Regions from separate parts of the Homo sapiens genome. Here region 2 is linked to region 1. The links come from fine-mapping of genetic effects on plasma protein levels. A gene starts in region 1. The other region holds a variant in brackets. All regions are shown on one strand. Distances are between the middles of the regions.

Region 1 (5,376 bases):
CGTGCCACTGCACTCCAGCCTGGGCAACAGAGTGAGACTCCATCTCAAAAATAAAATAAAAAATGAGAATAGATGTTAATAGTAGAGTAGCATACATCATAGAGGTAATACAATAGTACATTTCTGTGGGAAAAGGGTTATTCTGGCATAAATTGCTTTCATTTAGAAGAGCTAAGTTAGAACTTCAGATCACATTGCAAAACATAGATGGGTGAAAGTCTAAATTCTTAAAAAAAAAATACAGTGTAGTATACTAGATTAAATAAAGGATTATCGGCTGGGTGCAGTGGCTCATGCCTGTAATCCCAGCACTTTGGGAGGCCGAGGCAGGTGGATCACCTGAGGTCAGAAGTTCAAGACTCGTCTAGCCAACATGGTGAAACCCCATCTCTACTAAAAATACAAAAATTAGCCAGGCGTGGTGACACGTGCCTGTAATCCAAGCTACTCAGGAGGCTGAGGCAGGAGAATCACTTGACCCTGGGAGGCGGAGGTTGCAGTAAGCCGAGATCGTGCCACTGCACTCCAGCCTGGGCGACAGAGCAAGACTGTCTCAAAAAAAACCACTTTTAGTCTGCTTTCATGAGCAATAGTTATCAATGAATTAACCTACTAATTTGCTATATCTTGAGTTTTTTACTTGGAATTTTTCAAAGTTTTTCCAGTGTAGTAGCTTTGCTTGCCTTACCTTCCTGCTTAGTGAAATTCCAACATAGAATCTTCTGGGTTTTTTTTTTTTTTTTTTTCAGTCTCAACCTCCTGGGCACAAGTGATCCTCTAGCCTCAGACTCTTGGGTAGCTGGGATTACAGGTGTGCACCACACACCCAGCTACTTTTTATTTGTTTTTGTTTTTTGTACAGAGAGGATCTTGCTATGTTGCCCAGGCTGGCCTCGAACTCCGGGGCTCACTCAATCCTCCTGCCTCGCCCACAAAGTGCTGGGATTATAGGCATGAGCCACTGTACGTGGCCTAAAGTCTTGTATTTCAATGAGGCAGCACTGTCATTACGCTAAGCACCATTTTTACCACTGATGTGGAATGTACTTTAACCTTCCTAAACCTCAGTTTTACCCACCCTCAAAATAAGTTATCTTTTATTGTACAAATGTCCCAACCAAAAGCATAAGCAAGAGCAGACAAAGTTAATTATACTAAGGATACATCATTTTATCCTTACTACCTCTTGCAGTGTCTGGCATATAGTAGGAGCTCAATGGATGTCCACTGAATGCTGAAAAGAAGTGAAAGGTAGTAGCCTCACATCTGTGTCCTAAAGAAGGAGACTAACATTTTCATACAATACCAAAATAGATATATTCATTAAAAATGAAAATAGATATTCATTACAGTGTCTCTGAGTTAAAAAGATGGTATAGTTAAACATTCTGGGCTAAGCCTGTGTGTGTGTGTATGTGCTAAAAATATGTTTCTTTAAAGGCTAATCAGCCAAGGATCGTTGGGGACAAAATCAGATTCATTGGCTTGATGCATTGAAAGAGTACCTGTGGAATGCCATGTGAGCACAGAAAGGAGGAAGTGTCTTTTGTAAAGATTTGGCTTCCTATTAAAGGATTCCAGGGAGAGTCTTGGAATCAGAGCTGGGATCCAGTTGGTTGCTGTTTCTGAGGCAGATTGAGAGAAAGGGGGATTAATGAGGGATTGGGTGCTGTCAGGAGGTGAAGGGAGTTTAGCAATTGGGTATCCCCAGTTATGGATGGGAATAGTAAAGCAAAGGTAGAAAGTAGTAGTCATTCAAAAATGGAACACAAGGAGTTGTGTTGTTTTGTACCTGCTGCGTGACTTCAGAGGAAACAACATTGCCTGTTAATTTTGCTTCTGACTTTGTCCTCTCAGCCTGATCATTGATCATTGGCAGTACTAACTTTTCCAAGTCCAAGCTGATTTTCACTCTTTGAGTCCTGGACAGGTTTTTACTCTTTAGTTTTTATTTATTTATTTATTTATTTATTTATTTATTTATTTATTTATTTATTTATTTTGAGACGGAGTCTTGCTCTGTCGCCCAGGCTGGAGTGCAGTGGCACGATCTCGGCTCACTGCAACCTCCGCCTCCTGGATTCAAGCGATTCTCCTGCCTCAGCCTCTCAAGTAGCTGGAACTACAGGCGCGGGCCACCACTCCCGGTTAATTTTTTGTATTTTTAGTAGAGACGGGGGTTTCACCGTGTTAGCCAGAATGGTCTCGATCTCCTGACCTCGTGATCCGCCCGCCTCGGCCTGCCAAAGTGCTAGGATTACAGGCGTGAGCCACCGCACCCAGCTGGTTTTTACTCTTTAAATGTGCATTATCTTATTTGATTCCCAGAATCATCCTATATGAATGCTATTATCTTCATTTTATAATTGAGGAAACAGGTTTATCTAGATTAGGTAACTTGTCTGAGGCTCTTCGGTAAATACGAGTAGCCAAGAAGCTTATTCATCAACAGTGTGTGACTCAGCCCTAAGCACTGCACTTATACCTCCTAGTAATGAGATGTGCGAGGAATGCCCTGGCTACCTTTTCTGCTCATGATATTATCCCTAGATGCTTTCGCATCTTTATTAAAACAGTAAAAATGCAAGAGTCTTCCACCCAAGTTTTCTGTGGTTTAGATTATCACGTTCCTCAAGATGCAAATGTCAAACTATACTGGGCATCCAGTTAACCTGCAAGGCCTGGAGGTGATGGGAGCCCCTCCTAGCACAGGTTCCCAGTCTCAGTCAGAAAGCACCTGCTCAAAATAGAAAGATAATTACAGAGTAGGGGCCAAAGAGACTCCCACTGGAAGAATGGAACTTGTGTAGCTGGGGTGACACAAGCTGGGGACAAGCTGGGGGACACATTCGCGAAGGGTGTTTGACCCAGGCAGTGCACCCACGGCTCCCTTGAGCCACCCTGGCCCGGGTGTTTATTTGGAAGGAGTGTTCATCCCCCAGACTGTTTAGGGCCACGGTGACAGGGAAGGGCTTGGTGAAGGAAAGCAGGTAGGGTATGAAGGCCGCTCAGGTTCACGAAAGACTTTTGCTTGGTCCCCTGCGGGGTGGGAGTGTGTCGCCCCGGTGCGGGTACTTAGAGCGCAACCGGGGAGCTGAGCAGGGGAGCTGAGCAGGGGAGCTGGGCAGGGGCGGCTGCCGCGCCCCACATCCCTGAGGGCGTGTGTGCGCGTGCGCGCGCGTCGCCGTGGTAACCGCGGCGGCGGAAAGGCGCTGAATCACTGGCGCGCGCTTTCCCCGAGCCTGCAGAAGCTGCCGCGGGCGGTGGGCGGGGATCCCCCGGGGGTGCAACCTTGCTCCACCTGTGCTGCCCTCGGCGGGCCTGGCTGGCCCCGCGCAGAGCGGCGGCGGCGCTCGCTGTCACTGCCGGAGGTGAGAGCGCAGCAGTAGCTTCAGCCTGTCTTGGGCTTGGTCCAGATTCGCTCCTCTGGGGCTACGTCCCGGGGAAGAGGAAGCGAGGATTTTGCTGGGGTGGGGCTGTACCTCTTAACAGCAGGTGCGCGCGCGAGGGTGTGAACGTGTGTGTGTGTGTGTGTGTGTGTGTGTGTGTGTGTGTGTGTGTGTGTAAGACCTGCGATGACGACGAGGAGGAACAAGTGGGACGGCGAGTGATGCTCAGGGCCAGCAGCAACGCATGGGGCGAGCTTCAGTGTCGCCAGCAGTGACCACAGGTACGGTATCTACTTCCCAGAGCGCCTGGCCGAGAAATAGGAAAGAGGGCAGCCAGTAGGCAGGCCAATACCCAACAAAAGTAGAATCGAGACGCCCTGAGTTCAGAAGGTGAGTTTCTTAAGATTCTTCTGGGCATTCAGGAAAGGGCATTTTTTGATTGCTGCACTGATTGTTGACTAGTAGGGTGGAGTCGGGGAAATTTGAGTGTCTTTTCCCAACCTCACGAATTGCATTTTTTTAGAAGTAAGGAATCGTTTTCTTTAAACTTCATTCAGAACTATTTATGTGATCTTTCCTATTATTTGCTAAATGCATTTTGTCTCTGTTCCTTACCATAACCTGAAGCTTAAAATCTTTCTCTTCTTCCCTTTGAATTCCCTCCAAGGAATGTCACAAATTAATCGGGAGGATAAACCTGAAATTTTGAGAGTTATCATCTTAAGGTCATTTGTTAATTAAATACAAGGAGGAAAAATATGATATACATACTCATGTGCACTTTTATTGCTGGTTTGTTCATCAAAACATTTTTGTTTGTCGGTGAAATGTTAGTATTTTTTCCACTGCTTGAATTGAAAAGTTGAATGATGTTTTTGATAGTAACAGAAAAAATAAATTGTAGACAATGTTCCCCCCCACACACAAGAATTTTGGAAGTAAATGTTGGTATTTATTTCTTTATTCCTGAAATACATGCTCACTTTCCAAATGCTTCAATTTATTATAAGAAGACCACAATTGTAGAGACTACTAAAGTTATGCCAAATCTAAACTTTTATTTTGTGCTTTTTTTAGTATTATTTTTAATTCAGATGAGGAAAACTGGAGGTGTCAGTTCAGTTATAGACGTAGGAGTCACAGAGAAAGGTGAATTCCTCTGTAATTTGAAAAAGGGAAATGTAAACATATTACCTAAGTACTCTGATTTATTTGTATTAACCATTTGTAATGCATTTGCATTTGTAATGCAAAATGCCGAGGCAAGAACTTAATTTTTGTTTCGAAATAATGAAAATAATTCAGCCAAAATCTTTATGAATTAAAAATAGCCAAAAGAGAGCTTTGGTAATGTATGAATGTAAAAGAATAGAGTTGCTGTTAAATTTTCTTGACTTTTTTTTTTTCCCTAGCCAATAGATAGGAAGCATTCTCTTTAAATAAATACAGTAAGTCCTCACTTAACATTCTTGATACGTTCTTGGAAACTGTGAACCTTTAAGCACAACGAGGTATAAGGAAACCAATTTTACCACAGGCTAATTGATATAAACAAGAGTTAAGTTCCTACAGCATATTTCTGGTCATAAAAAAATCACCAAACTTCTAAATAAAGACCACAACACTTCTAATATTAAACATAGAAATAAATGGGATCTATACATACAGTTAAGAAGGATTAGTAAAAACAAGATCATTATTTACCCAATTATTACAGTTCAAGGTCATGGGTAGCCAGAGTCTCCCTGGTTCAGAGTGGGAACCCCCCCCTCTCCCCTGTCCAGGAAGCTATCCCATCACAGGGTGCACTTTCACAGACACACCCACTCACTCAGACGGGGACCATGTAGACATATGCACAGCTTTGGGATGTGAAGGAAACCGAAGCCCAGAGAAAACCCACGCAGACATGAGGAGAATGAGCAGACTCCACATAGACAGTGGCCCTGGCCAGGAATTTTTTTGTCACCAACGTTGAATGAAACTA
Region 2 (5,376 bases), 26 kb after region 1:
TATATCCTGCTTGCCTGCTTGTACTATGTAGGCCCTTTTAATTTGAAGACTGGTTTTCTTCATTTAAAGGAAATTTTGTTCTATTATTTCTTCACTTCTTCCCCTCTATTGTCTCTGTTCTTTCTTCCTATAATGCCTCTTAGCTAGATGATGAAAATTCTGGACTCTCCCCTATGCCTTCTAACATTGCCCCATATTTTCTTTTCCTTTGTCTTTGTGTGTGTGCGTGTATGTGTGTGTTTGTGTTCATGTGCACACTAGGGGAATGTCCTCACATCTACCTTTCAAATCTGTAACTTGCCTTCAGCCACGTAGAACAGGTGTTCTGGAGCCAGATAGCTTGACTTTGAATTCTGACTTAGCTAATTTTTAGCTGTCTGAGCAAGTGACTTAATCTCTCTCTCTCTCTCTTTTTTTTTTCTTTTAATGAGATGGAGCCTCACTCTGTTGCCCAGGCTAGAGTGCAGTGGCACAATCTCTGTTCACTGCAACCTCCATCTCCTGGGTTCAAGTAATTTTTCTGCCTCAGCCTCCCGAGTAGCTGGGATTACAGGCACCTGCCACCATGTCCGACTAATTTTTGTATTTTTAGTAGAGACAGGGTTTCGTTGGCCAGGCTGGTCTCGAACTCCTGATCTCAAGTGATCCTCTCGCCTCGGCCTCCCAGAGTGCTAAAATTACAGGTGTGAACCACCGTGCCCAGCCATTAATCTCTTTAACTCTGTTTCCTCACCTGTGAGATGGGGAGAATAATAGTACCTGCCTCACTGGGTTAGTTTGATTATTAGGTATGTTAGGATGTTTAAAATGCGAAGAACAGATCCTGGGCCTAACACATAGGAGGTACTTAATATATATTAGCTGCTAGCATTATCAACAGTTATTCCACTTGTTCACTGAGGTTTTAATTTTAACAATCCTATTTTGAATTTCCAATAATTTTTCTTGTTCTCTGATTTTTGCCCCTCATTTGTAGCAGCCTATTTTTGTTTTATGGAGGCAATATCCTTTCAAATTTTTCCAAAGATACTAATTACTATTTTAATTATTGATATTAATTGTGGTTTAAAGTTTTTCTTTGTTCCTTTAATCTTCTATTTGTTTATCATAGCCTTTCTTTTTCATGTTCTTTTTTTTTTTTTTTTTTAATTTCTCAAATGTCTAGCAGTCCTTGGTTGCCTGTTCCTTTTGATCTGTGAGGGGCTCCACTGATCAGGATACTTGGCTGCTTTCTGACGTAGCTGTCCACTCATTGATTCATGTGAGGCTTGCTGTGGCATCTGAGTGCATGAGTGGGAGGTGTCTGGTCAGGTTTCCCTCTGGGGTGTACGGGTGAGCACTCCCCAGGCAGCCACTGGAAGGAGAGCTCTGCCTAGAGGTGTGGTGCTTCAGAATAAAGTAGATTTCATTCCAGGGCAGAGCTGTGCATTCGCAGACTCTGTTGACTCTCCTTTTCTCCCAGGCCCAGTGCTGCCACCAGGGCCCCATGGAGGTAGATCTCCGTCTCTTGAGAGAGCAGTTCTCTGGCTTTAGCTTGAGATCTGTTTTTCGTTTGGTGATCACCCCAACGATTGTGCCTTGGCCGGTTCTGTCTCTTTGCATCCATTGGCTCAGGGCTTGGAGCTTCTCCAGTGCTGTCACCAAAAGTGCTGTTCTTCCTTTTTCTAGGAAATGAGTTTCCTCTCTTCCTTTCCAGTCAGAGCCATGCCATCTGCTTTCTATCTTCCAGGAATTCTTTGAAATGATTGGTCTATTAATGATGTCCATTCTTATTTTCCTGTGTTGTTATGGTTTATTTTCTTTTGTCTGTTCTTATGTCCTGTTTGCCTCCCCTCACAGTTTTTCCCCCCAGTAAGACCATGCACAGGAAAGAGGAGAGCTGGATATACATCTATCTGCCATATTGAACTAGAAAGTTTTCTTTTTTATTTTGAGCTTTCCAAGATTTTCTTAATGATGCCAATTTCCTCCCAGATAGATTAATATGAATATATTTTTTGTGTGGGCTGTGTCTCTGGATGTCCCCTGGAATAATGGTGGTTCTTGTCTCCATGATCTGCCTCTTTAGAGAGCTCAATTCTCTTTTTAATGAACACTTGGGGGCTTGGTCTGTTGCTGCAACACCCTGCTTCTCTCAAGCTTCAATAATAAAGTGAGTGTGTTAAGGAACTATGAGTAGAGAACCATAAGATACTCGCCCATCTCCCAAATATCTCCCATACCATCATCTGTCAAAGGTACCTGAAATACCTTTTTGTCTTCAGGAATCTCCAGATGAAAATGCTAACGTCCTAAGAAAGAATAAGACCTTGAGGCTTAAATAAGTAATATCAGCCAACACCTTCATTTGGAAGCTTGGGTTTGTGGAAACATAATGGAAGGGAGATGATGGGAGGATGAGCAGGATGTGACAGGGACTCCCTAAAAGGGAAGTAGGTGTGACTGTATGCTTCTCAGTTTTCTTCCATGCCCACCCTGGCTGATACCACATAGTTTCTGTTTCTTATTTTGAATTGGCAGTAGGAAGTCAGCTGCATTCCTAGGCATACGCATAGGTGCTATTATAGAATGAATGTTTGTGTCTCCCAAAATTCATATGTTAAAAGCTCCAACCCCTGTGACTATATTTGGAGGTAAAGACTTTATTGGAGGTAATTAAATTTAAATGAGGTCATAAGGGTGGGGCCTTTATCCAATAGAATTAGCATACTCCCTTCAAGCCTCCAGAGCTTTGAGAAAATAAATTCCGTTATTTAAGCCACCGACTCTATAGTACTTTTTTCTTTTTATGGAAGCTTGAGCAGACTAATACAGTTGTCTTTAGGGAAAGATTGAAGATAGAAAAAAAGCAAAAACACAAGTATGGGGCCGGGAGCAGTGGCTTATGCCTGTAATCCCAGCATTTTGGGAGGCCGGGGCAGGCAAATCACCTGAGGTCAGGAGTTCAAGACCAGCCTGGCCAACATGGTGAAACCCCGTCTCTACTAAAAATATAAAAATTAGCCGGACGTGGTGGTGTATACCTGTAATCTCAGCTAGTTGGGAGGCTGAGGCAGAAGAATTGC[A/G]TGAATCCAGGAGGTGGAGGTTGCAGTGAGCTGAGATCATGCCACTGCACTTCAGCCTGGGCGACAGAGTGAGACTCCGTCTCAAAAAACAAAAACACAACTAGGGATAGTCAGCATTTCCTTTTTTTATATATAAAAATTGAAGAGGCCTCATGTTTGGGATCTTCTTAGCTAAGATTAAAACCAAGTTCTGGAGTGCCACAGTCCAGGTGACAAAAATGATTTTTAAAAAAATTTGTGAAGCAGTTTTGCATACTTTTTTCATGTCTGAATATCAAGTTCAGGAAGCTTGACTCCACTACTCCCGACCAATATTGGCAAAATATATTGAAAATAAATTGCTAACTTATTTTCAGTAGCATATTATTGACCAAGGAAACACAAAACAGGATTTTAGGCCAATTAATCCAGCAGTGTTAGAATGAACAGCGAATGGGATCCATGTGATTGTCATTTCAGATGGTCGGCACTTTTTAGTCAGGCTGGAACTATATTTGGTTTGCTCTGGCTGAAGCAGCGAGGGAATTGCTATAGTGTGATTTGCACGCCTGCTGCAGCAAAATATGGCACTCTCAAGATCAGAAGGCACTGTTTTATTTTAAGTTTCTCCCCCTTGCACCTTAAGGTCTCTCTGCAGATGCATGTGACTAGGTGAGACATATTCATGGAATATTTTGAAAATAGGCCATTTCCCCCCTCGTGCATTTTCACTCTTTCTACTCAAGTTCATCCCTCAAGCATGAACATTCCTTTTCCATTGTCACTCACTCTCTTGGTGGTGTTAACCAGTCTTGTGGCTTTGAATACCAGCTACACAATGATGCCTCCCAGTGTATGTCTCCAGCCCTCTCTCCCATGAACCCTGGACGTATTTATCCTGTGGCCTATTCAGCAGCTCCACTTAGATATCTCTTGCATTTGGAGAATGACAACCCCATTCTTCCAGTTGCTCAGAGTCATCTAGGACTCTTGTTTTTGTGTCACACCTTACATCTTATCCATCAGCAAATCCTATATGCTCTACCTTAAAATAAATCAAGGCTCTGACTCCTCAGGGCCTTCACTACTATCACCTTGGTGCAAGACACCGTCCTCTCACCTGGATTATTGCCGAAGCTGCTAACTTGTCTCTCCATTTCTGCCTTTGATTGCTATACTCTCTTTTCAACGCAGAAGCCCGAGGGAGCTAATCCTGAAACATTTCCAGTTTCATGGTGAAAGCCAAAGATCCTTCATACTAACCTATAATACAGCCTCCCATTGTCCCCCACCCTGACCTTCTAGTGCTTTCCCTTTTCTAGCGATGCTGACCCTCTTGCTGTTCCTGCAATACACAGGCACATTCCCCGCCTCAAGCCTTTGTGTTTCTTTTTCCCTCTGCCTGGGAACTCTTTCCTCTCAGCTGTCCACATGATTCACTCCCTCATCTCTCCTAAGTCTTTGCTCAAATGTGACCTTCTAAGTTCAAAAATTCTCTCTTCAGCAGTGTCTAATCTGCTATTTAGCCCATCCATTGAGCTTTTAATAGCAAAAATCTTTTTGTTTTTAGAAGTTGTGCTTGGTTATTTTTCAAATCTGCCAGGATCTTTTTTTTTCTTTTAGTCTTGTACCTTGCTACTACTTTTTTTTTTTAAACATTTCATTTTATATTTATATGCCAGAATTCCATTATCTGAAATCTTTGGGACCTAATACTCTTGTCTTTCTTTTCTGTTGCTTTTCTTTGTGTTGCCTGTGTGTTTTGTACTTTTTGTGTGTTTTTGTTGTTGTTGTTGTTTGGGGGTGTTTTGTTCTTTTGAGACAGGGTCTTGCTCTGTTGCCCAGGCTGGAGTGCAGTGGTGTGATCATGGCTCATTGCAGCCTCAACTCAGGCAACTCTCCCACCTCAGCCTCCTGAGTAGCAGGGACTACAAGTGCACACCACCATGCCTGGCTAATTTTTTTTTTTAAGTTTTAATAGAGATGACATCTCACTATGTTGCCTAGGCTGGTCTCAAACTCCTGGGCTCAAGCAGTCCTCTTCCCTTGGCCTCCCAAAGTGTTGGGGTTATAACTGTGAGTCATTCTACTTGGCCTGTAATTTTGAATTGTACGTTCTGGTTTGTCTAGGTTCTCTCTGGGGTTGAGAAAACTTCTTCCAGAAGGAATTTATAATTGCCTCTGCCAAGTACCTGTGGCACTGACAACTCAGGACAACTTTAAGTTAATTTCTCCCCCTGGGGTTTATTAAGCCAAACTAGTAATGAAAAGCCAAGCCCAAACTTATGTTAAGCAAACCTATGGTTGCCAATTCTTGAAGGAGAAGTTTATC

Which allele goes with the higher level. Positions count from the first base shown, and alleles are read on the strand shown. Strength reflects both the effect of a copy and how common the allele is.
For the plasma level of the protein whose gene starts at base 3,215 in region 1, allele G in region 2 goes with a higher level than allele A (weak association).

The links. PIP is the posterior inclusion probability: the model's chance that the variant is causal. The UK Biobank Pharma Proteomics Project read protein levels with antibody pairs (Olink). The fine-mapping took linkage between variants from a reference panel, not from the people measured, so its PIPs are less certain.
Region 2: its variant is fine-mapped to the plasma level of the KIAA0319 protein (UK Biobank, PIP above 0.99).

The regions. Positions count from the first base shown.
Region 1 is chr6:24,644,030-24,649,405 of GRCh38, reverse strand. KIAA0319 reads left to right here and starts at 3,215. Exons shown (of 21, transcript NM_014809.4): 1 at 3,215-3,670. RefSeq lists a silencer at 3,161-3,370.
Region 2 is chr6:24,618,091-24,623,466 of GRCh38, reverse strand. The region is part of intron 1 of KIAA0319; the gene reads left to right. Among named protein-coding and RNA genes, the nearest start is that of KIAA0319, 25 kb to the left of the region's middle. The variant A/G (reference allele first, on the strand shown) is at 3,066.